Linked DNA regions of Homo sapiens: region 2 is linked to region 1. Evidence: fine-mapped expression QTL. A gene starts in region 1. The other region holds a variant in brackets. All regions are shown on one strand. Distances are from middle to middle.

Region 1 (2,932 bases):
CCCCTCCAGCAATCATGAATGCAAATCAAAAAAACAAAAAGATGTCATTCCTTATGAGTTTGACAATTCAGAAGTTGATTTTTACAAAGTATTCTTACCCCCATTAAGAGGGTAAGACATACTGTTTTGTACCCCTTGGCCGGGCGCGGTGGCTCATGCCTGTAATCCCAGCACTTTGGGAGGCCGAGGCGGGTGACTTGCTTGAGGTCAGGAGTTCGAGACCAGCCTGGTCAAGATCGTGAAACCCCATCTCTGCTAAAAATACAAAAATTAGCCAGGCACAGTGGCGGGCGCCTGTAATCCCAGCTACTCGAGAGGCTGAGGCAGGAGAATCGCTTGAACCCAGGAGGCAGAGGTTGCAGTGCGCTGAGATCTCGCCACTGCACTCTAGCCTAGGTGACAAAGCAAGACTCCATCTCAAAAAAAAAAGAAAAAAGAAAAAGAAAAAAAAAAGACTTTTGTACCCTTCATACACTGTTGTGGTAGTGCCAATTGACAGTCTCTTCCTTAGGGAGGGTCACCTGGCACTAGTCACAAACTCCACATACTCTTCAATCCAGCAGTCTCCCTCCTCAGCATCCTCTCCTGACACAGGCACATTCTACAAAGAGGCATGCACACTGATATTCATTGCCCTATTTGCAGTAGAAAAAAAAGACAACACCGGGCAGAATGACTTAGATTTTCATGGAAAATTAGTGGAAAAAGTTGTAAAATATGTACAATTGATTTATATACACACATACCCCCCTACTGCAAAGCAAACTATGTACGTCCATATATGGATGTAAAAGCATAGGAGAGTATACACAAGCACACCTGGAGCAGGAAAGGGTCTAGAAGGATTTCAGCTTTTTCTGCCATAAAGATTATTGCTAAAATACATACCACACAACAAACCAACCCATTTCCCACAAATATTACTGTTTGACTTCTCACAAGATACATATAGATTTTTATTGTGTCTCTTCCTTCTGTGTTTCTCTTTTTTCCTAACTGAACTTTGTTCTTTATGCAGGCCCTCTTCCAATCCTGATATATTTTAAAACCTTTAGCATTTCTGCCTACAATATTTGGGTTTTCTTCTTTTCCTGTCTTTATTTAATAAGCCCCATACAAATATTTTCCCCATAATCACAATGTTTCCTTTTCACCTTGCTCAAGAACTGAGTTATGAGCTCCAAATGAGGTCTTTAAAAATTTAGATAAACTCTACATTGGCTAAGTTTTAGTCATTTGCACTGCTAATAAAGATGACAAACACGCTGAAGAAGACTTCCTCCCTTATAAAGGGGCTAGCACAGAAGGCAATACTGTTCATACTTCTGATTCTTGATCACGAGAATTGCCTTAGGCAATTATAACAATGACTCCTCTGACACATAATATTATTCAAGCGAGACAGATAAAGGCGTATGTCCTGTGTCACACAGCTAGGTGGTGACAGCTGCCTTAGCATCAGCACACTGTGTTCCCTCTAATTTCTTCACTCATCTCTAGGTGGCAGTAAATCTGGTTCCGAATACTGACTTTGAGACTCGGCTTTCTCCACATCCTTCCTGTCACTTCCTTTGAGACTAATTCAGATTCTTTCCTTAGCTTCTATTTCCCCATTTGTAAAATTGGGATGATGAGGACATCTTCCTTGGGTAGCTGTGACAATGAAAATGGGATCATCATGCATCAGCCTTAGCCCCACGAGTGCCACAGTAAACTCTCAGTAAGTGAGGTTGTCATCATTATTGTATATTTAAGATTATCTACCTATTCAGAAAACCCTAGTGACAGAGTCTCAATTGCTTTTCTTTTCGCATGAATGATTACTTGCTGAATTCATCAACCTCTTTAACATTTACCTTCCTTTATTGTGCTGGAACATTTTTAATGTCTTTTGTGGCTTCTCACTATGACTGCTTTGTTCAAAACTTATACAGGTCGAGTATCCTTTATGTGAAATACTTGGGCCAGAAGTGTTTTGGGTTTTGATTGTTTTCAGATTTTGGAATATTTGCATATATGTAATGAGCTATCTTGGGGATGGGACCCATGTCTAAACACAAAATTCATTTCTGTTTCATACACACTTAGCCATATACACAGAGCCTGAAGGTAATCTTACATAATATTTTAAATAATTTTATGTATGAAACAGTTTTGAATGTCTTTTGACTGTGACCCATCACATGAGGTAAGGTATGTGGAATTTTCCACTTGTGGCATCATGTCAGCACTCAAAACGTTTTGGATTTTGGAGAATTTCAGATTTTGGATTTTCAGATTAGGTGTGTTCAATCTGTATATATGGGTAAGATTCAGTTGTCTCCTTTAATCCTCGGCTGAAGGAAGCACTAAAGATTTTGGGGCCTTAATCTCCCATGCAGTGACACTCTCAAAGCCATTGACTCAGCTTCTCACCTGGGCTTCCTTCCAGTGAGCCGCAGATAGCAGTCATAGATAATGGCAGGGGCCCGGTGGCTGACCGCATTCCAGTACTGTGATGTGAAGCTGTTGCTGGTAAAATTAGCATTTGGCCTCCTGAAAGGTCTCTCAAATGGGATTTTTTCAAAGGTTGCCAAGACTTGGACTCCTGGGGAAAAAAGAAAGTAAGTGCTAGAGGAGAAAAGGAGAATATAAGTCCATCATAGTGGAAAGCATTTGTAATGGGTCAAAACAATAAAGACGAAGGATTTGCTGTGTAGAGTCAAGAATCAATTTCTGAGAACAATATAAAGATTTTTGTGCTGGGCAAATGGTTATCTGCAAACTGAAACAGTGTGAATGGGTTAATAATTGGATTCTTTAGTTGAAGCATTTACTGTAAAACAAACTATTGGGGAAACACTTGTCAATACAAGGAGGTACTGTTCAGAAAAACATGAATCTGCCTTTAATTCTAAGGTCATCCAGTCTATTCTGAAAGCCCCAAGACAGA
Region 2 (2,932 bases), 71 kb after region 1:
CACATTCTAAGTTTCTAGTTGCACTAAAGTAATTGTGATTCAAAGAAATTTCTACCTATTTACTATGAACATCAAAGGTCACAGATGTCACACATAACAATACATGTATTAGAAGAGGTGGAATGTAGAGATATCCTTTCAAATGAATAACTCAAAGTTTTAAAAAGTATTTTCCCTTTGGGTTCTTACTTCCTGATGTTAAAAGTTGAAACAAATGGCTACTTAATGATGTTGAAAAATGTAGTGTAAATGCATGCACAGATAATAGAATAGCATACCAACGATTAATAAACTTATTGTACTACTATGGCATGAAAAATATCTTAATTTCTTCTCACAAGATACGGTCATTTCTTCTGCCACTCCTATGGGTTAAGAGACTTATACAGGTTTATCCATGCAGAGTTTAGAAATAAAGTTGGAAATTTCTATTTCCCAGTTCTTACAACTGTATCTCAATGTGTTATTCAACCAAGGAAATAAAGTTGGTAATTTCTGTTTCCTAGTTCTTACAACCGTATCTCAATGTGTTATTCAACCAAGGAAATGAAGTGGAAACAAAATAGTTTAAATGTGTGAAGACCTTTAACAAGGCCTTGCTTAAAAGGAGATTGATTCAGCACCATAAACTAAGTCCACCAAGAAGACTATTGATTCATGGAATAACACTGAAAAACTGCTACAACATCATTGCACAAATTACTGTTTGCAACCAAAAGATGATAGTGGCCTAGATATAAAAACACATTGTTCTTTTGCAGATATGTGGATTAAGAGAATTTGTTAATGTCAATGATTAGACACAGTATTTATTAACTGTATCTGTCAGAAGAAAAGGCACAGCATTAGTTGCTTCATACAGTGAGACTCCAGGAGCTTAGTCACTGCCACATATCAAGTAATTATTTCTTGAACCATGTGGAAAGTTACATTTCCTAAAAAAGTTAATATGAAGGTTAATTATGTGCAAATCAATATAATATAGTAAACTGGAAATCCTTATTTCCTAATGGAAGTTACTGATCGTAACCTGTGCCAATAAATTGGCAGTCTCTTAGGAAATATGTGAGTAAATGTAAATACATGATTTGGAAATATGCAGTTAGTTCTGTATGTTAGTTATTAGTTATTATGAAATATTATGAAATATTATGAATTATGAAATAACTAATAAAGTTATTAGTTCTTTATGAAGAACAAATGATGAATTAAAGCTAATAATTTCCCTACCAAAATTGTCTCCATAGGAACTTGTTCCATGTTAGAAGAACAATAAACTTCAAATAGTATACTTATTTTTCTCTGGTAATATGCAATTCTATTTAAAAATCAGCAAAAGTTTTAGGCATTTGTCTTTAAGAGAAGGTACTCACAGATCTGCAAAAATTACTTCTTAATAGTGTTAAACTGTGAGTAGTAGCTACAGTACATAAGACTAAAAATACAAGAATTTAATTTTTTCATATTATTAAGTCTGCTGTTTTATGGTCTACACTCTGCGATATAGTTCTTAATTTGACCCTTTATTTTAGAATTTATATGCTGATGCAATTTATTATTGACCTGTTTTGTATATAGGGCAAATATCTGTGTTTATTTTGTTTATCGATCTAAAGTGAA[T/C]TTTGATTTCCTTTTGATTTCTGTGTATCTCACTCTAAGCTATTGTAAAGGTGTGGAGCTAAGGGAAAGACAGAAGAATTCCAAGTCTAAATTCCTGCCTATTTTCTGAGGGCCTGCCTCCAGTCAGAAAGAGGTGAAATTAGAAGAGGTGAAATGTTGAGATATCTTTTCAAATCAATAACTGAAAGTTTTTAAAACTTGATCTTTTTTTTTCTCTGAGTTCTTGCTTTCCAGTGTTAAAAGTTGAAACAAATGGCTTTTTAAATGATGTTTAAAAATATAGTGCAAATGCATGCACAGATAATAGAATAGCATACCAATGATTAATAAACTTATTGTATTACCCTGGCATGAAAGGGTTAGATCTCAAAGCATCCTAATTTCCATGTACCATGATAGTAAAAAGGAAAATTTGATGTATATATTAAAAAAATATAAAACTATAACTATATATACCTAGCTATACTTATATAATTATATATAGCATATTATGTATAACAATATCATATAATATTAAAATAGTAAGGTGACTATAGGAAGGAATTTTAGCTCCTTTTAGTGATGAATAGTAAATCATTTGTGTATTGTGAAGCTGGTTTTGAATAAGAAGTATTATTGGAGATGTGGGAATGCAAGAAGGTATTTGGGGTAGTGATGTTGGGAAAGCAAGGGGAGATGAGAAAGTCCGATGTGTATTCTAAGTGCAAAGTATGGCTGTAGAAATTAGTTCCTGGGAGGAAAGCAAAGAATCCCAGGCTAGAAGAATAGATGACAACAGAAGATGGAAATCCAATGCCAGCATAAAGAGGTAGATTTTTATAGGGACTGGATATTTCTGAGCAATAAAATTATAATGACCAGAAGAGGCTGAGAATGAGACAAGAAACACATCTGGAGTCTATTTCAATGATCCAGGCCAGAGGTATTGAGGAGTTGAACTGGGGCAAGGAGTAGTGGTTCTCATACTTTAACGCAAATCAGAAAGAACCATCTGGGAAGTTTACTTATTAAACTTGCAGATTTGGAGACCCCCCAAGCCCAACCCCATTCTGATTCAGGGGATGACTAATTTAATGAGTACTGACACATAAATAAAGCAGATGTGGGTTTGAATTTTAGCTCTACCACTTACTAGCTATGATCTTAGGCAAATGACAGGCCATACCAGTTGCTATTTCCTCATTTGTAAAGTAAGAACAATATTATTGGGAAGACTTACTTTAAAAGGGCAGACAGGGCCAGGCGCAGTGGCTCACGCCTGTAATCCCAGCACTTTTGGAGGCTGAGGTGGGCGGATCACGAGGTCAAGAGA

The links. PIP is the estimated chance that this variant, and not a neighbour inherited with it, causes the effect. A credible set is the group of variants that fine-mapping cannot tell apart.
Region 2: its variant is the best candidate, but not a certain one, in a credible set for the expression of FAR2-AS1 in whole blood (TOPMed, PIP 0.78).

What each region holds. Positions count from the first base shown.
Region 1 is chr12:29,316,496-29,319,427 of GRCh38, reverse strand. It overlaps FAR2-AS1 (FAR2 antisense RNA 1), which reads left to right and starts at 1,580. Exons shown (of 7, transcript NR_103860.1): 1 at 1,580-1,720. FAR2 (fatty acyl-CoA reductase 2) reads right to left here. Exons shown (of 12, transcript NM_001271783.2): 9 at 2,416-2,587.
Region 2 is chr12:29,245,204-29,248,135 of GRCh38, reverse strand. The region is part of intron 1 of FAR2 (fatty acyl-CoA reductase 2); the gene reads right to left. Among named protein-coding and RNA genes, the nearest start is that of FAR2-AS1, 71 kb to the left of the region's middle. The variant T/C (reference allele first, on the strand shown) is at 1,621.